2 separate regions of the Homo sapiens genome follow, and region 2 is linked to region 1. The links come from fine-mapping of genetic effects on gene expression. A gene starts in region 1. The other region holds a variant in brackets. All regions are shown on one strand. Distances are from middle to middle. Region 1 holds the start of SNED1 (sushi, nidogen and EGF like domains 1). Region 2 holds the start of SNED1-AS1 (SNED1 antisense RNA 1).

Region 1 (9,555 bases):
GTATCACACAAACTGACCTGTCTTCCCTGTGAGTCTCTTCTCTAAGCAGGTCACCTGCAGAGGTGGGGCAGTGCAGACAGAGACTTTCCTTATGGGGCCCAGCATGCAGCCAGGACCCCCTACCACACTACCATGTTCCAACAGCTGTGCCTGTGCCATGGGTCAGGCCAGTCCTGGGAGGGAGTCGGCTGTGGGCTGAGGCTGAAGTGTGCAGGTCCTGCATCTCTGTGTGGAAAAGCTGACTCCCAGGCTAAGGCTCACCCTGTCAGGGAAGGTGGGACTGCTTCTGCTTTGGGGAACACACGGTGCAGAAATGTGCTGGTGGCCAAGACCATGAGCCCACCATGTGGATGTGGCACAGGAGGACTTACTGCTCAGGGTGCAGGCATCTTGCTGCATGCATCCTCTGGCCTCAGCAGGGGTGGAAGAGAGAGTCCTTCACCAGGGCACCACCACCACTGCAGCCCCAGGCTGTCGTCTGAGGCCTATTCTGAGCCCAACACCAGAATGGTGGCATGAGGATGGATGTGGTCCCTGCCTTCATGGGGTGCACATCCCAACACCTCCCAAACAAGAAAACTAAGGAGCAACCCAGCTGAGGTCAGAACCAACAAGCTGCAGTGAGCACAGAGGGTGGGGCTGGGGGAGTGCCTGAGCGGGGGGCCCGGGGGAGGGCGGAGGGGGGCAGGGAAGCGTAGCGGGGATTCTGGCGAGGAGAGACAGGATCCCACTGGTGTTTTGTATGGCTCCCTTGGTCACTCTGCACAGAGGAGGGCAGGCTGGAGGGAAAGGCCAAGAGCTGGAGGTCAGCAAGGGGGTGCTGCAGGTGTCCAGGCAAGTGGGGATGGACAGCTGGGAAGTGGTCCAAGTAGAGAGGCAGGCGGAGCTGCTGCTGACGTGGAGGGTGAGGGAGAGGAGGGAGGCATTGGGGAGGCTCTCAGGGGTTTATTCATGGAGATGGGTGGGCGCCAGGGAGGAAGCAGGACTTCTGTTTGGGTCCCACTGAGTTTGGGGTGGCACAGTAAGAGGCAGCTGGACGCAGGAGTCTGAAGGCCCCTGAATCTGCATTCTGAGCCTCGGTTTCCTCATCTGCACTGGGCATGACGTCCTGCTCCATCCTCTCAGGGGCTGCCTGTGAGGTCCAGGCAGATCACAGCTGTCCTGGGCTCATGGCCTTGACCTGGAGTCATCAGGCTCTCTCACTCCAGCATCCTCCTCGACTCCAGCCCCATTCCACTTCCCCAGGATCCCCTTCCATCTGCTTCCGTCACACCCAGGCAGCAGCAAGAAGGGCATGCTGATGAGGGGCAGGACCACCTTGGCCAAGCCCATAGCAGGGGGTGGGCCAGCCCGGGAACCTCAGTGAATAGGGCAGCCAAGGGGAAGCCCAGGACCCTCCTCCCAGCCAAGGGGCTCCTGCATTTGCTGGGGTGTTCCATGAGCTCAGAAGAGAGCAGAGATGGCAGTGATTTCTCCCCACATGTCTGCTCCCAGATCCACTCATGCGCAGGCCTCGGTCCCACTGAGACAGTCCCTGTGGGTCAGGGTGGATTTTCCAGATGGCTTGGAGCTGGCGACCACACAACCGTGACAGTGATGGGGTGTGTCACAGGTATGACCTGATGGGGGAGCTTCACCACACAGATGGGGAGACAGAGGCTCAGGGAGGAAATGACCAGGCAAAGGTCACAGGCTGCATGTGAACTCCCACACCAGAGCAGCTGCCCTGGGCTCCGTGTTCTGGGAGGGGTAGGGCCGGGACTGTGCCTGGATGGTAATGTTGTGCAGAGCCAGAGCCAGCAGACTTGCGGTGTGGCACGAAGCCTCAGGGCACAGAGTGGGGGTTTAGCCAGCACCAGCGAGGGTCAGTCTGACTGTCCACATTCCTCCTTCTTGCCTGCGGGCTCTGCAGGGCACCACCCACTCTTGACCCTCAAATCCTCCCTGCCTCTGCTCAGGGCTCTGTCGGGGGTCCTGATGCCAAAGAAACTGAGATCCTCCCATGGCCCAGAGACCATGCTGTGGATGGGGGCAGTGCTTGGAGCCAGGAGCTTCAGTGTAGGGGGCACCAGGAAGATTTCGTCTCTCATTCCCTGCACCTGCCCCTAGGAAACCACTCCACCTGCATAAGCCCCACAGACCGCGGCAAGCTCCGTCTTAATGCAGACACTGGCAGTTCCTGCATGGCAGGATAGCGGCAGCATGCCACACTCCTCAGCACGCCACACTCCTCGGCGCGCCACGCTCCTCGGCTGCATTATCTTTGTCTGTGTGTAGAACCTTAGCAATAAAATGCACTTTCAACACTTTTCAGAGCCTTACGACTTACCACACACATACAGCTACTATGACATGAGAAAGAAGCAAAACAATGGGTCCCTTCTGGAAAGGGGGCCACTCCATGTGTGGCAGAGCTGTCTTGCTAGGGCAGTAATCCATGTGCTATTTCTGATGAAGACAGAAGAAGCACCCATCTCATGCAAGAGCACTTCTAATTTCTACCTGTGACTTGCAGGCAGTGTCAGAGGGAGGCACATTCATTCATTCAGACAACAAGCCTACTCTTGGTCAAGCGACAGGCTGGGGGCGGAGGAGCGCAGAGGTCACTGCAGTGGGATGGGGGCTGGAGGGTCCTGGCTGGGCCTGACATGGGAGTCTGAGTCCAGGGCCAGCAGACACGAGGCCCCTATAGACTGGAGCTGGACAAGGGCCAGAGCCAGGGGCCTCAGAAGAGGGTCCGCTCGGCCTGGGTGGGCGTGGGAGGCCCCAGGCAGGTCCACTTCCTTCAGAACAAATGCCTCCCTTCTTTCCACCTGGCTTCAGCCCTAACCTGCTGCCAAGCACCCCTTTCTCTCTCCCTGCTTGACCACAGAGTCCGCACAGTTACTTCAGGCAAGGTGTCCTGGGCAACGCAGCCTCAAGCCTCCTGCTGAGCAAACAGAAAGGTGAAGTGCACTGCAGGCACTGTGTCCACATCGGCAAATGGTTTTCAAATAATATCTTTGTTTCAGGAAAAAGCTCCGATGGAGATAAATGTTTTGTTAGCAGCCAGAAGGTTCATTTCTGACGAAACCCTAGTTCTCCTAGCAGATCTTCCCACGTTAGAGCTGTTTCCCCTAGTTGCTCTGGCAAGGGCAGATGTTTTTGGTGAGGCTGTTAAGTGGGTTAACCATTTTAATAATATTTTCACCTGTGACTGTGAGTGGGAAAGCTGAGCCTGGCCCAAATGCTTAAGGAGCCTCTTGAGTTCTGTTCGGATGGTGCCAATGTGAGTGTCCCATACCTCAAGTGGACAGGCCTCCTCCAGCTCGGGCCAACGCTGAGCACCATTCTGTCCTACCCACTTCGTACTTCCAGGAGTCAGTCCCGTTCCTCTGTCCAAGTCCCGGTCCAGAGGGACTTTCAGGGGGTAGCACCGACAGCATGGCTGCCCCTCCCACCAGTCAGGTCACCCAGTGCTGCCACCGAGGTGGGGAGGCCTTCCTGAGCAGGTGTGGAAAACGCAGTGGGCGCTGTGGATGGTGTTGGCAGTTGTGGGGTGGGAGGCGCACTAGAGGGCATGTGGTGGAGGAGGCCCTGTGGATGGAGGTGGGGAGGGATGATGACAACCATGCAGAGGATGTGGATGGTGACGACGGGAAGCTGGGGACCATGGGGAAGGTGGTGGTGGAGGCAGTGCTGCTGGTGGTGGGGTTGAAGGAGGTGGTGTTGACGGAGGAGTTGGCAGTACAGGTGGTGTTACTCCGGGCAGCACAGATGGCAGAGGCGATGTGGCTGGCAGTGGGTTGAGGCTGGAGGTGGGCGAGGGTATGAGAGGGCTGATGGTGGAGGTGGCCGTGGTGACGGAGCTGGAGGGGACTCTACTTGAGGCTGGCCCAGCAGTTTTCTAGATATGATCTGGGGTGTTTCAGGGAACCACCAGGTACCAGTGCACCGTGGCCTACTCAGGGCGAGTGCTCCATGCAGTTACCAGGTGCATTTCATTCCCTGGGCTGCCATAAGGGCTTGGCCTGGGGTCACACTCTGGGAGCCATGGAGACAGAACCGGCACTCGGGCCTGTTCCTTCAGCTGAGCTGAGCCTGCTGTCATGAGTCCCTGGCCCCAGGAGTCCCACTGGGAGTCCTGTTTGGAGAGTCTGAGCCTGAGCGGCCAGCCCCCAGACTGCGGAGAGGACGGCAGGGAGGGGCAAGCCTGTTGCTAGCCCGCCTAGGAGGGTCAGCGAAGAAGCAGGCCCTGCCCTGAGCGCCTGGGCAAGGGGTCCAGCCTCCTGGCTCTGGGCCGCACTGGCGTCCACGGGGGGCGGGGCTGAAATGGCCCAAGGAGGGGCTGCAACCTTCGCAGGCCCGGCGCCCCACTTGGGAAACTGAGGCCCGGGAAGCCCGTGCCCACGGCCACATTGCCATGTGTGAAAACCAGGGCAGTACCAGGACCCCTGCTCTCCCCTGGGAATCAGGCGCCGGGAAGACGCGCTCGGCAGGTCTGGCAGGGGCCGGGGCGCCGCGCTCCACTCGCCCCCGCCTCGGTGCCCGGCGGCTGCCGCCCCCGCCCCGCCCGCGCGCCTCTCCCGCGGGCCGCTGTCCGGCCTTGGCCGCCGAGGAGGAAGCGCTGTCCTCATTCCACCTCGGGCCGCCCCGGTGCCAAGTGGCTGGCGGCGGCGGCGGGAGTCCGGGCCCGGCGGGCAGCGGCCGGGGCGCAGCTCCCTCCCCTCCCGGGCGCCCCGCGAGCCCGGGGGTTACTCACGTAGAGTCCGGAGTGCTCGGCACCGAAGAACGGGAAGGGCACCGAGAGCGGCCGCAGCCCCGAGCCGCCGTCGTCCTGCTTGGGGGTGACGGCGTCGCCGCGCTCGGCGCCGAACGGGTAGAAGTCGGCAAGGGCCACCGCGCCGCGCACCCCGCGCGCCCCAAGCCCCAGGGCCGCGGCCACCAGCAGCGCCCAGGCGACGCCGTGCCGCATCGCGGAGGTGTGCGGGCGGGACGGGGCGCTGGCGGAGCAGGGCGCTGGGGGACTAGGCTGCGCGCGGGGGTGGCCGGCAGGGCCAGGCGGGGTGCGGGGAGCGCGGGCGCGCCCGCTGGCCGCGCCGTCGGGGGCTCCGCGTCCCGCGCCCGTTCGGCCGGGCCGCGCTCTCGCCGCAGCTCCGCAGAGGAAAGCGCCGGGCGGGACCGCGTTCGGGGCCAGCCCCGCCCCTGGGGCCACGATTTAAATATCCAGCCCGGCGGTCACTCGGGGGGGCGGGGCCATGCAAATCGGGCGTCTCTTAAAGCGCCAGGCCCCGTGGGAGGGCGCGGGCGCGCGGGGAGCTCAGTCCCCTGGCGTGGGCACAGGCAAGGTGAGGGCTCTGCGGGCGCGCGCCCTGTGGTGGGGCCATGCTCCGCCCTGGGTCCCTACCCTGGTGGAGGCGCCTGGGCCCTCAGTGCCGTCCTGGGACAGACCTGTGTCCCTAAGGCCTGAGACGCTGGGCCCGCCCTGAAGGCGTGTCATCACGCGGGGGGCGGGAGGGGACCCTGGCCAGGCAGTGCCTGAATGAACCCGTTCCGTGCTGCCCCCTTCCCAGCCCTGAGCATGGGGACGCCAGGCTTCCAGCCACAGGGGCAGACTAACCCCGGAGCCCACTCCCTGCCTGGGTCTGTGTGAGGAAGAGCCCGGGCCGGAGACTAGGAGGCATGGAACAAAGTGTTTGCATCTGCGTGGCCGCATCAGGAGAAATTCCTGGGAGGCTCGGGACCTCGGGGCGACCCCTGGGTAAAGCAAACCCTCCGTGGGGAAGACTGACCCACTCAGGCCCTGGGGGCAAGTGCGTGCATGACACCGGCCTTGGCAGGTGGGGGCAGGACTCTGAGTCCCAGTATTTGAATTCAGGGTCCCCACCCTGTGGCCTGCCAGCCCTGCCCCCTGTCTCTTGGGCTGCTGGCCTGGGCTGCCTGTCTGTCCTTCCTCAGGGCCTCAGCCGGGACCACCTCTATGTCCCCAGGCCCATGGCAGGGTCTGATTCCTGGAACTCACCCGGCCCACCGTGGTCTCTTCTCTTAGATCCTGGTGTTGGGTGGTGTTGGCTGCGTGCCACACTGGGGCCCCCAAAGATAAGAGTGCACCCCTCGAAGACAAGCAGGAAAGGCCGGGCTGATGGTAACTGCATCTACCACTGAGGTGCTGGGTGGTTTTTTGTTTGTCTTTGCGTTTGTATCTTCTGAAATATCTCAAGTGAGCACGTGTTGTTTTTCAGTGAGAGCCAGGCACAGTCAATGTTATTTTTAAGAAGCAGCGGAGGGTTCTCTGCGTGTGACTGGGTGTTGCCGGTTCTCACAGATCCTGCACTTGGTGTTTTCACTCAGAGGTTCATGACCCTTTAGACTTGGTGTCAGGGCCGGGTGCAGAATTGTTAAGGAGGAGCTGACCCTGCACTGGCACCTCCTGAAAGCTTGCCCCTGGCGCCTCTCCCACCCTGCATGGGGTGGCAATTCTGTTTGCAGAGAGGCAAACTGGGCCTGGGAGGGGAAGGGCTCTGTCCCGCAGTTAGCCCTTAGGTCACCGTCCCAGCTTTCAGAGCTCCAGGACAGCAGCACAGCCATGGTTCCAGGGCCAGAAAGGTCAAGGCCTCCTGTCTTTGGAGGGAGGCACCAGAGAGGGCGTGGAACTGTAGAATCCCTACTTGAGGCCGGCTCTCGGTGAGAGCCTGGCAAGGAGAGACATGTCTCCACGCACATGCACACACGTCCACGCACACATGCATACTTATTCACATGCACGGAGGCAGCATATGCCCATACGTGGGGCCTCAAGAACATGCTTTAACCCCTTCCTCAGCCCAGCCCTGGCCTCCCTGGTCAGGGAGGGCTGCTCCCACCTCTGGCTGGCACAGGCCGTGGAGTCAGGACAAGGCCCCATGTAGCAGCGTTGGGAACAGAGCTGCCAGGCGTCACCGTGGCGGGAATCAGGGAGAACGCTTTTCTATTTGTCTTTTTTCTAGAAAAACCTGGCAGCCCTCTACCCTCTTTTCAGTGCATTTGGGGCCTGGCTGGAAGGCCCCTCCGGTGAGTTTGCGAAGGTGGGAGGCGGCAGTGCCAACCCCAGGGCAGGATTTCTCCGCTGAAGAGGTGTTGTCATGGGGACGTGAGGCTTTGACCCCCACTAGGGCTGGCCCACCTCCTGCCCTGTCCCTACTACCCATCCACTTCCCACCACATGCTCCTGCTCTGCTCTCAGAGCCCAGCCTGGGGTGCTGCCTCCCAGCCAGCTGCCCAGGCCAGGCGCCCTTCTCCCCACTGCTGACCTTCTCTTGAGCACACAAGACAGGGACCTGGGTAACAACCCATTTCTGGGCTGGGTTTGGGTCAACTTGGGGGCAGGGCCGCCCAGGGCACCTTGGGGCACACAGTGGCACTCAGTGGCTGCACCGAGTGGAGGCCTGTTTCTTCAGGCGGGTGGGCTGGTGGGCCTCACGGGGGTCGCTGAGCAGTGCTGGAAACGCTCAGGCCCGTCCTCGTCCCAGAGAGTCAGAGCTCATGGGCCTGGGGCGTGGCTGGCAGTGGGCCAGACCCTGCTCATGGCCCAGAGAGGCCACACTTCCTCGGGCCTGTACCCTGCTGACCAGCCTCGGCCTGCACCCTGTGCAGATTTTCAGCCGGGCCCGGGGAGCTGGGGGTTAACAAAAGGCCCCGCTGCTGCTGGGCATTACATTTCATTAAAAAAAAAAAAAACAAAAAAAAAACAACACAACTCTGCAGGCAAAAAAGAGAAAAAAAAATGTTTTTCTCAGGTGCTAAAAATATTATCAGGAAATACTTTTCAGCAATGTGCTGTTTTAGGCTCCCCTCTGGACTCAAGGGCGCCTTTGTCTCTGCCACAGAAAATCCACATTTATCAAAACCAAAATTGTTTTATCAAGCAGGCTCATGTTCTGTGGCCAGGAAACCCGAGCCTCCCCAACCGGCCTGTGACATTTTAATTTAGGGCCTGAGCGTGTGTGCAATTTAGATGGGGTGCCCCGGGAGCTGCCCTCAGGATGCCCCAGGACTCGGGGCTCCACGCAGGCCAAGGTGGGGGTGCCCTCCCCAACCTGCACCTGGTTGGCTGGGCCTGTTTGGTCTTCACAGGGTGGAAGATCCTGGGGGTTCAGGCCTGAGCTGCCAGGGGCAGGGGCTGGCTGGCTGTAGCCCACCCTAACTTTCTCTCCTTCTCTCCCAGAAGTGGCAGGTGGAGTGCAGGTCCCCTGCCCCAGAAGCGCTGATCCCAAGTAAACCTCCACATGCTCCGGAATGAGGCCAGGAGGTCACAGGGACCAAGGGCCGCTCCACCTGCTCACCTGGTCACTGTCCTGTGTGGCTGGTTGGGGTCTTGGTGCAGTTGGCCCTGAGGGAGTGTGGGGGCCATGCAGCCTGCCCTGTACCTCCTCTTCTCATGCACACGGAGCCGCACACACATTGACTCCCATGACGGGACTTCTGTGGTTGCTCTTAGGGAAACGATGGGACTGGGGTTCAACACTTCCTTCCCAGGATGTTCACTGCTGCGTGGGCTCAGGCATCGGCTCTCCCTGTCCTGGGGATGACGAGACCCTGCCTCCCGTTGAGAGCCTTGTCCATCTCCTGAGTGCCCAAGACAGGACAGAGCCCCATTCTCTGTGGGCTCCAGGATGGCAGGGACAGCCAGCAGTGGAGGGACACTCAGGCCCAGGGTCCTCCGATGCCCCGGAGCTTCCGCAGCAAAAAAACCATGCTCTGAGACGTTTTTAGTGATTCGGGAAAACTCTAACGGTATTGTGTCAAGCAAAAGTTTTAAAAAATAGTACTCTGAGTAGCATCCACGCTATGGCCTCAACCGTCCTAAGCACACGTGTGCTAGAAAAAGGGAGAGTTGGGTGTCACCTCGGGGCTCTGCAGGTCACAGATTATGGTGGTGGTTACATTCTCCTTTCTATGTTTCCCTGCTAACATTTTTTGCAATTAATTTGAAAAGTATGAATGTTTTGGAAGCCCAGATAAACAATGCCCTTGGTTCCAGCTGGCCGGCTTCCTGCCCCGGCTTCAGCCAACCAAAGCTTGTGCTTCCCTCAACCTGGGGTGCTTCAGAGGGCTGGCCTGTCCTTGGGTGCCGCCGTCTGCGTTCAACATGGCCCCTCCTCCAGTGCCCCCTCCCCAGGGGGCCTTCCTCTCCCATTTGTCCCCTCCCTGTGTTGGTCTGCAACCCCTGGATGCCTGCAAAGGGTGCTGCCCCCGGACCCAGGCACCTGAGGGCCTGTCAGAGCGTCGGAGCTTCCTGGCCAGAGGCTGGATGGGACCCTCCAACAGCCCCTGCGTGCCCCACATTCCTCGGCGAGCCTCAAGGGTGGCAGGAATCCGAAGGGATTTTGTGTTCTGTCTCAGACAGGAGCTGGGCCCCTGCCTGCATCCCTGCCTTGTGTGGGGGAGGGTCTCCTGGCTTTCGGAAACCTCAGGCACATTTATCACCTCTGCCCACCGGAGAGGGCAGGCAGAGGAAGAGCCAGACCATGGAGGCCTCCAAGGTCGCAAGCGTATGTGTGGCTCCAGCTCCATGAGGTGGTTCTGGGGGTCCATCCC
Region 2 (9,555 bases), 64 kb before region 1:
CTGGCTCACCTGAGACCTTTGTCTCCGCTCAGGTGAGGAGCGGCAGGTGGTACAGTCCACACACGGAGAATGTGCCCGAGACCTGGGCCCCGTGTCCCCGAGCCCCCACCCCTGCCTTCACCCCAGCCCCATGCTCTGGGTGTCCCTTCTTACCTAAAGGTGAACCTGTCCACACTCCTGTCCACATCGGTGGCCTGGTCCCTGAGGGCCTCAGGGTGGCGGATGGACACACGGACCCCACTGACGGTGGCATGGCGGATCCTGTGCAGGGCCCACTGCACTGAGATGGTGCTAGCCGTCACATTGGTGACCTCGAAGCCTTCCACAGGGCGGGGTCCTAGGGGGAATGGACTGTTCAGCAGGTGCCGGCCCCTCCTTGCTCCTGGGGGAGTGCAGGGGCTCAAGATGAAACCAGGCTTGGGAGGGTGCTGGGGGCCACAGAGAGGCACTGGAGAGGGTGTCCCATCAACTGCTCAGGGAACTCGGGCTGAGTGGGATGCCCAGGCTCTGGCCTCCAGGGCTGACAGCTGCAGAACCCGCTGTGAGCATGACGGCTGCAGAGCCCGCTGTGGGCCAGCCCGTCTTACCAGAGGCAGGGGTCTTAGTCTCCATTTAGATGTGGCAGTGACATGGCAGGGGATGGGCCGGAGTCCCTCTGGACATGAGTAACCCGGACCTCCCCTTTTCTGTGCCAGTTGACTATTTTGGTCTAAGAGCACACATCCGGGCCTGGTCTGGGCAACGCTGTCTTAGGAGGACAGACATACAGAACTCCCAGCAACTGCAGGGAAGGGGCCACTTGTGAGCTCCGCTTCCCGCCCAGCCAGTCTCCTCCGAAGCTCCAGTGCCACTGCTGATGCACCAGGCAGAGCCCAGAGGGCAGCGCTCAGCTCCCGGCAACTCAGCACCCCGGTCTGTGGACAGCGGTCCCTTCCACCCACCATGGCTGGCTGGAGCCCCAACTCTGCAGCGGGCAGGGCGGGCTCTGTCTTCACTCCAGATACCTTCCGAGGGCAGATCTCACATGGGGCGGCCTTGCAGGTGCTTCTTCCTAAAACAGCCCAGGCGAGCCACCCCTACTCAGCCCCTGGCAGCTCCTGCTGACACCTGCTCAGTGCCACCCGCACATGCGCCCAGGCTCTCCACTGGCCGAGGTGTGCTCTGTGTCCTTGCTGTGTTGGGAACTCCAGCCCCTTGGTGGTCAACTCCTGCAGGACAGGCCCTTGTGGGCCTCTGGGTGGGCTCAAGCTGCCTTGAATGCCTTCTCCTGTCCCTCAATGCCCTTGGCATTGGCATCAAGCTAGGGCCCAGGTGTGGCCAGGAGGCTTTCCTCCTGTGAGAACCGCCGAGCTCCTCCCCACCTACCCGCCATGCTACCCATAGGTTTCACCAAACTCACGTGGCCGCCCCGCAGGGCCCTGCTGGATGCTTAGGCCTCCCTGAAGCCCTGGCCACCCACCCACCCATCCATCCATCACGCCACTTCGCAGCAGTCTGTGCTCTCAGCACCTTTTCCTCTTTCCTCGAGCCTCTAGCACCCCTTCCCCATTCTTGCTCCTGTGTCTGGAGGCCACAGGCATGTTGGGTGAGAGTCCCATGGCCCCATGGCCCTGCACCCCACTTGGTTCCTGCCCAGCCTGTTCCGAGATCCCCTGTGCTCTAGCTGATGCGGCCGGGCTCCGTGGAAGGCCAGCCCTCTGCTTTCTTCCGGCCCTGCCCCTGTCCGTCCACTGCCATGTTCTAGGGCTCCTTTCTCCTTCCCAGAATCCCTCCCAGCAGCACACAAGCCCGCTAAGCCCTGACGCCTTCCCTAGAGCGCTCAGCATCTTCTGCTCCCCGACACGGCAACAACCCCACAGGCTGTGCACAACCCGGGCCTCCCCTGCAATCTTGGTGGCTCAGGCTCTGAGGAGGCTCCTCCTAGGACCCCCTCTTCAGGGGTCACATCTGGTCACAGCTTTCAGTGCCAGCTCCAGGTGGAGGCTCTGGGTCTGTCATTCCATCTAGGGCCTGCCCCACGGCTCTTCCCGATTGAGCCACCGATGCCTCCCCTTAGCACACCTCAGCGCCTACATATCCCTGTGAGCAGGTGCCTCTTTCAAACTCTCCCCAGGCCTTCAGAGCACCCCAGAGTCCCAGCCCCCCCAAGCCCACCCCCGCGGCCCCTGTCTCCCACACTGGCTCCTTCTAGGGACCCTTTTGGGAAGCCCCCATTCCTCCCCAGTCCCACTTCCTAGCTCCATGCCTGGGGGTTGTGCTGCTCCCACTCTTGGCTCGATTCTATGCGCCCCAATCCCATGCCTGTATCTTGTGGACCCAAGGCCACTCCCACACAGCTCTGTCTCCAGCAGGGCGGTGCCTCCAACCCCCAGCTCAGCTGTCTGTCTTGCTGCTGCAAGAACTAGGAGGGTGGACGGCATGACAGCCGCCCTGCAGGTGCCGGGGCCAGCGCTGCCCTCGAGGGGCAGGGGCTGGGCAGGGACGGCCAGGCTCGGGGACACTCACGCGTGCGGGCCAGCAGCACGGCAGGCCTGCTGATGTCATTCTTGTTGTTACTGTTTCGCTTCACTGAGAAGACGGAGATGTTGTAGGCCCTGCCGGCCGCCAGGGCCTGGAGCTGGTGCGAGGAGCGGGTCCTGTCCACAAAGTCTGTGCGGCGGTAGGAGCCGTCGGAGGAGACGTAGGTGACCGCGTAGCCATCAAGCATCTGCCTGGCGGCTGGACCATTGGGCGGGTTCCAGGAGATAGAGACCCCACTCTCCTCCACTCTCTCCATCTTGAGGGCCGTCGGTGGGAAGAGCTCTTCAGGGTTTGGGTCAAAACAAGGGGAGGGGACTGGTCAGCCGTTAGCTATGCATGCCTGGCTCCCGTCGGCGGCTCAGCCGGGTCTGGCTCTTGGGCCTGACACAGCCATCGCTGGCAGAGTCCTTCTTTGTCCCTGGCCACGTACCTCCAGGAGGGTCACACTTTTGAATGTGTGACCGTGTTTCAAGCCCACCGGGGGATTTTATCCCCTCCCTGTTCCTCAGGGAAGGGGCCTGGGCAAGCAGCGGCCAGACGCTCTGCCCTTGGAGACCGTTGGGCCCTCTAGGGAGAGGGGACCCCCTCGTGGCTCCCTCACTGGAGGCGCCCTCGCCACCCACCTTTGGCGCAGTCCTCGCCCGTGTAGCCCACTTTGCAGGTGCAGCTGTGGGAGCCGTTGCTGGCCAGGCAATAGCCACGGCCCCCACAGGGGCTGGAGAAGCAGGGGTCACTCACTGAGGGGAGAAAAAGTGGCAGTGTATGTTGGGGCGTGGCCAGGGGTCCCTGCTCCAGCCCCGCCCTTGCTCCTGGGGCACTGGGTCCCTCCTGCGTGGGTGTGGAGGGGCGGGGGGCACAGGACAGCTACTGCCTCCCTTCGGTTCTGCCACCTCCACTGCCCTGCGGGGCCCAACCCAGCAGCTCCTCCACCCTCCACAGCGGAGTGCCACCAGCCGGACTGGCTGAGGGGAGGAGACACTGGATCAGGACAGGACAGGCCACCACCCCAGTGACAGTCCTGCTTGAGGAGGGGAGGTCAGTGGTCAGGGAAGCCTCATCAGGAGGTATCCCACTGGGGGCTGATTAGGGAGAATGTTCCAGATGGAAGGACAGCCAGGGGCCAGACCTGGGTGTGCAAGAAACTTGGCCTGTCCAAGGGCAGCAGGGCCTATGTGTGGACGTGAGGCCCCACCCCTGGGTGTGTCCTCGGGTGAAGAGGGGTGTCTGGGGGGTGAGCGCAGGAGATGGGGAGGTTTAGAAGGCACCATTGTGGGACCAAGGGAGACAGGCGGAGGGCCACTGGCCTGAGAAGGGGACTTCCAAGGCGGCGGGCAGAGGGCGGGGAGCAGGCGGGCAGAGGGCGGGGAGCAGGCGGGCAGAGGGCGGGCAGCAGGCGGGCAGAGGGCGGGGAGCAGGCGGGCAGAGGGCGGGGAGCAGGCAGGCCTGCCGCCCTACCTGTCTCGCAGTGGTAGCCGAAGAAGCTCTCTGGGCAGACGCACAGGTAGGCCCCGCCGCCGCTCTCACACCGGCCTCCATGCTGGCAGGGGCTGGAGTCGCAGGCGTCCACCTCTGGAGAACACCCAGAGAGTGGGCCCAAGCTGCAAGGGGGGAGTCTGGGGGAGGGAGGAGAGGACAGCGGGAAGAAGGGAAAGGAGGAGTCTAGGGGCGGAGGCCAGGAGAGAGGGGCAGTGGGCAGGTCCCGCCCCTCAGCCCTCCCCAGCACCCTCACCTCCACCCCTCCCTCCCAAGGTGGCCGCAGCCCTGGGGGTCCCTCTCCCCAGGTGGCCTGCCCAGCAGGGAATGTGGGGATGCCCCACCTCCTCTCTGATCTTCCAGAGGCCCAGGCTCTGCATGTGGGGCCCACTGGA[G/A]GGAGCCCCTACCTGTCTCACAGTGGACTCCAACGAAGCCTGCAGGGCACCGGCAGACATAGGCCCCTGGGAGGTTCCTGCAGGACCCTCCATTTCTGCACGGGTGAGCTCGGCACTCATCCCTCTCTGCACAGAGAAGGGGTGTCAAGGGTGTTGCTGGCTCAAGTCTGAGGCGCCCACATGCCCCCAGGATTCCGTGCATTTCCTGGGGCTTCAGTTACCCCTTTCCCAGCTGGGAGCAACTACTCAGGACATGTGCTTTTTCTTCCATCAGCCCCAAACCCACCCCTCCTCGGGAGGCGTGCCACCTCCACTGCCTGCTGGCAAAGCCCCACCTCCAGGCCATGCCTTCCTCCAGGCCACTCCGCAATGGGAGGCTCCCCAGGGCCACGACTGGGCACGGCTCCCTGGGCCTTGCCCTCCCTGGAGCCTGCGTTTCTCAGGCTTAGAGCCCTAGCGAGGTACAAGAGTGTGCAGGGCTCATGGGGCAGGCCTCCCCTCCCTCCACTGGCTGGAAGCACCGACCAGGTGTCAGAGACTGTGACCTGCCCTCTCCGACGCCCACCTTCTCTGCGCCCTGAAGCCAGGCCAGCATTTCTCAGCTGGGCTCTCAGTCTCCCCTGGGGAGGTGCAGGAAGGGATATTTGTAAAATCTTTGTCTTGGATGTCAGAGCTGGCAGGGGCCCGAGAAAGCATGCAGTGGCCACCCTGGCCATCCAGACAGAGACCTGTCCGGGGGACCCAGTGCCTCAGGCACATGGCCAGTGTGCTGCAGCTGTCACCCCAGCGGGGCCAGGGCCCCTCTTACCCAGCTCACAGTGGGCGCCCTCATAGCCTGTGCTGCAGAGGCACAGGTACCCAGCAACGCGGTCCTGACAAGAGCCCCCATGCAGGCACGGCTGAGACCGGCACTCATCGATTTCTGAGAGGAGAGAGCCCAAGAATAAAGCAATGTGGCCACGATTAAGCCAAATTAAGATGCACATAAACTAGTCCTGAGGGGCCAGACAGAATTCGATGATACATCATCAGTGGTTGGAAAGGCCAGAGACCAGGGCTGGATATCCTTGGAGTCGGGGCAGGGCAGTGGGCCTGGGGCTCAGTGCCTGGCTGTGTCTGTGAAGCAGCAGGGCGGGCTTGAAACCACCCCAGGGCTCCCAGAAGACGCTGTGGGACTTAATTCCAGTGGTTCAGGCCGACAGGACAAAGGCCTCAGGGGTTTGACAGAAAATGTCTCATGTCCCATCTTGCCATTTCAATGTATAATAGTCACCTGTGAAACCAGTCCATCTGGGACAAATCTTGGTTTTAAATGATTCACCACAGCTTTCTTTTCAAGCGGGAGTTGTGCTCCTGAATTTAAATATTTATTTTTTTAAAGTTTAATTTCATGCTTAAAAAGTAAATAAATGGTAATGACTTAGTGACATCTGGGACTAGCAGCCACCCCGGCAGCCAGAATGCTGAATGGGCTCATCCGACCGTGTACCCTTCTCTTCCCTTGCGATAAGAATCTCTGGGTTTATAATTTCCTTGTCTTTAAAAACTAGGTTTTCTGGCAGTAAAATATGTAATTAAAATTAGCTTAAAAATTTTATAAATTGCCTAAACAATAGTGAATGTTTTTGTTGTTTATGAACTTTATTCATAGTACATCATGATATATATTGTCTTCTCTCAGCATTATATGAAGAAGAGAACTCCACACTGTAGGTCACTGTGGTTCATAGATTTTCACTGCTGAATAACATTACACAGTGTGGTTATATCATACTTCACCCATTCTCACTGGCTGGGTCTTTGGGTTGGTTCTAGACTTTTTCCTTTTTTTGTTTTCTTTTTTTCTTTTTTTTTTTTTGGGGGGATGGAGTTTCGCTCGTTGCCCAGGCTGGAGTGCAGTGGCATGATCTTGGCTCACCACAACCTCCGCCTCCCGAGTAGCTGGGACTAAAGGCGCCCACCACCATGCCCGACTAATTTTTGTATTTTTAGTAGAGATGGGGTTTCACTATGTTGGCCAGGCTGGTCTCGAACTCCTGACTTCGTGATCCGCCTGCCTCAGCCTCCCAAAGTGCTGGGATTACAGGCATGAGTCTACGCCCAGCCTAGACTTTTTGCTTTTACAAAAAATGTTGCTGTGTATATTCTTTCCCATCTCCTGGTGCAGACGTGAAGTTTTTCTTAGGTTTATACCCAGAAGTGCAATTGCTGGAACACAGTTGACGTAAATGAGCAACAGTGGGCAGATTGCTCAACAGGCAGAGTGCCACATTGTTTTCAAAGTGCTTCTAGCAATTTATACTCTTGCCAGCAATGCATAAGAAATCTTGTTGATCCACATTCTCACCGGTATAGGCTTTTCAGACTTCTGAAAATTTACCAGCTGAATGTACCTCATTGCACTTTTGATTTGCATTTCCCTGATTACTAATGAAATAGAATATTTCTTTTTATGTTTGTTGGCCTTTTGTATCTCTTCTTCCATGAAATGCCTATGCATGTTTTTTTTTCTATTTTCCTATTAGGTTGTTTTCTCATTGATTTATCAGAGTTCTTCATGTAGTCTTGAGACTATTTATCTCTTCTCCCAGTTTGTAGTTTAGATTTCACTTTCTTAAGGTTTATGGATTTAGGTTCTAATTTTCATATGGTCAAGTATGTTCATCATTTCTTTTTAAATTCTTTTTGTGGCTTAAGGAGTCTTTCACTACCCCAAAGTCAAAAATATATTTACCTATATTTTCCACACAAAATTATATAGTTTTTTTTGGTTGTTTTTTTTTGAGACAGGGTCTCACCCTGTCCCCCAAGCTGGAATGCAGCGGTGCAATCACAGTTCACTGCAGCTTTGAACTCCGGTTTCAAGTGATCTTCCCACCCTAGCCTCCTGAGTAGCTGGGACTACAGGTGCATGCCACTACGCCTGGTTAATTTTAGTTTATTTTTGTAGAGTTGGGGGTCTCTCTATGCTGCACAGGCTGGGCTCAAACAAAACTCCTGTCTTGGCCTCCCAAAGTGCTGGGATTATAGGCATGAGCCATGTGCCCGGCCCTGTATAGTTTTTTTTTAAAGAAACATTTAGGTCTTTAATCCACCTGGATTTAATTCCAGTGTATGAAAAATAGAGAACCAATATAATATTTTTCCAAGTACAAAACCATTGTATTCCAGCTCTCATGAATATTTTCTCATATGCTTTTGTATTTCTTTCTTTTAGAAGTTTATAGTTAGGGACGGGCATGGTGGCTCGCGCCTGTAATCCAGCACTTTGGGAGCCCAAGGCGGGTGGATCACCAGAGGTCAGGAGTTCAAGACCAGCCTGGCCAACATGGTGAAACCCCGTCTCTATTAGGAATACAAAAATTAGCTGGGTATGGTGGTGAGTGCCTGTAATCCCAGCTACTTGGGAGACTGAGGCAGGAGAATCGCTTGAACCAGGGAGGCGGAGGTTGCAGTGAGCCGAGATTGTGCCACTGCACTCCAGCCTGGGCAAGAGTGAGATTCTGTCTCAAAAAAAAAAAAAAAGTTTATAGTTTTAGCTTTTACATTTATGTTTATAGTTCCTTTTACGCATTTAAAAATTTATCATGTTTTTGATGCTATTAATGTAACACTTTCATTTCAAAGTGTTCACTGCTACAACAGGTTCTATATACTGACCCTGTATCCTGGGATCTAGTTGAATTCACTTGTTAGTTCTATAGCTTCTTTTGTAGAATTTCCTTAGGATTTTCTATGCATACAATCATGTGATCTCTAATTCTTTCTTCCTTTCCTTCCTTTTATTTCCTTTTCTTGTCATCTGGCACTGTCTAGGGCCTCCAGGAAAATGCTGGGAATACGTACTGAATGGACACCTTGCCTTGTACGGATTCCAGGTGGAGTCTTTCACCACTGAGTACACTGGTAGCTGAGGTTTTTAATGGATGTCCTTTATCAGGTTGAGGAAATTATCTTCTACTCTTAGTTGACTAAGAATTTTAAATACCAGTTGAATTTGTCAAATAATTTCCTGCATCTATTGAGATATATAGTTTTCTCTTTCATCTCCTAATATGATGAAGTACATTGATTGACATTAAAAGTTAGACCAACCTGTGTCCTTGAGAAAAATCCCACTTGGTCATGACTGTATCATTCTTTTATATAGTACTGAGCTTGACTTAGTAATATTTTGTTTGGATTGTTGTGTCTATGTTCTTGAGAGATACCAGTCTGTAACTTCAAATTTTGTAGTGTCTGTGTCTGGTTTTGGTATCAAGGTGAGTTGAGAAGTTATCAAATAAGTTGGGTATCAATTGAGTTTGGTATCAAATGAGAAGTGTTCTTCCCTCCTAGATTTTCTAAAAAATATGTAGCTCTTTCTAAAAGAGGTTGTACAAAGTTGGTATCATTCCTTTCTTAAACATTTGGTAGAATTCATCCGTGAAGCAATCTGACACAGCTGTTCTGAGGAAGGTTTTTAATTACAAATTAAGTGTAACAGATATAAGGCTGTATATGTTTTCTATTATTCTTGTGTCAGTTCTGGTAATTTGTCTTTCAGGGTATCCATTTCCCCTAAGTTGTCAGATACATTGGCCTAAAATTGCTCATAGGTGTTCTCTTGTCCTTTAAGTACTGGCAGGATCTTTAATGTTTAAAGGACTCCACTGTAAACACGAGGTAGGATCTCCTTTTCTATTTTGATCTTGCTAATTTCTCTCTTTTTTTCCTGATCAGTCTAGCTAGGGTTTATCAATGTTAATGATTTTTTTTTTTTTGAAACAGAGTCTTGCTGTGTCACCCAGGCTGGAGTGCAGTGGTGCGATCTTGGCTCACTGCAAGCTCCGCCTCCCAGGTTCACACCATTCTCCTGCCTCAGCCTCCTGAGTAGCTGGGACTACAGGCGCCCGCCACCTCGCCCAGCTAATTTTTTGTATTTTTAGTAGAGACGGGGTTTCACCGTGTTAGCCAGGATGGTATCCATCTCCTGACCTTGTGATGTGCCTGCCTCGGCCTCCTAAAGTGCTGCGATTACAGGCATGAGCCACCGCGCCCGGCCCAATTTTAATGATCTTTTCAAGGAAATAGCTTTTGGTTTCATTGATCTTTCTCTGTATCTGTCTTTTTTATAATTACATTTTCTAATTGTTGGTTGCTGATACATAAGCACATAATTAATTTT

The links.
Region 2: its variant is fine-mapped to the expression of SNED1 in whole blood (TOPMed, PIP 0.97).

The regions. Positions count from the first base shown.
Region 1 is chr2:240,994,237-241,003,791 of GRCh38, reverse strand. SNED1 (sushi, nidogen and EGF like domains 1) reads right to left here and starts at 5,174. Exons shown (of 32, transcript NM_001080437.3): 1 at 4,742-5,174. The coding sequence starts at 4,954. RefSeq lists a silencer at 5,123-5,542.
Region 2 is chr2:241,058,546-241,068,100 of GRCh38, reverse strand. It overlaps SNED1 (sushi, nidogen and EGF like domains 1), which reads right to left. Exons shown (of 32, transcript NM_001080437.3): 17 at 5,197-5,310; 18 at 4,401-4,514; 19 at 3,976-4,089; 20 at 3,144-3,257; 21 at 2,506-2,802; 22 at 154-337. It overlaps SNED1-AS1 (SNED1 antisense RNA 1), which reads left to right and starts at 3,983. Exons shown (of 3, transcript NR_187212.1): 1 at 3,983-4,021. It also overlaps a transcript of MTERF4 not described here. RefSeq lists a silencer at 3,875-4,034. The variant G/A (reference allele first, on the strand shown) is at 4,389.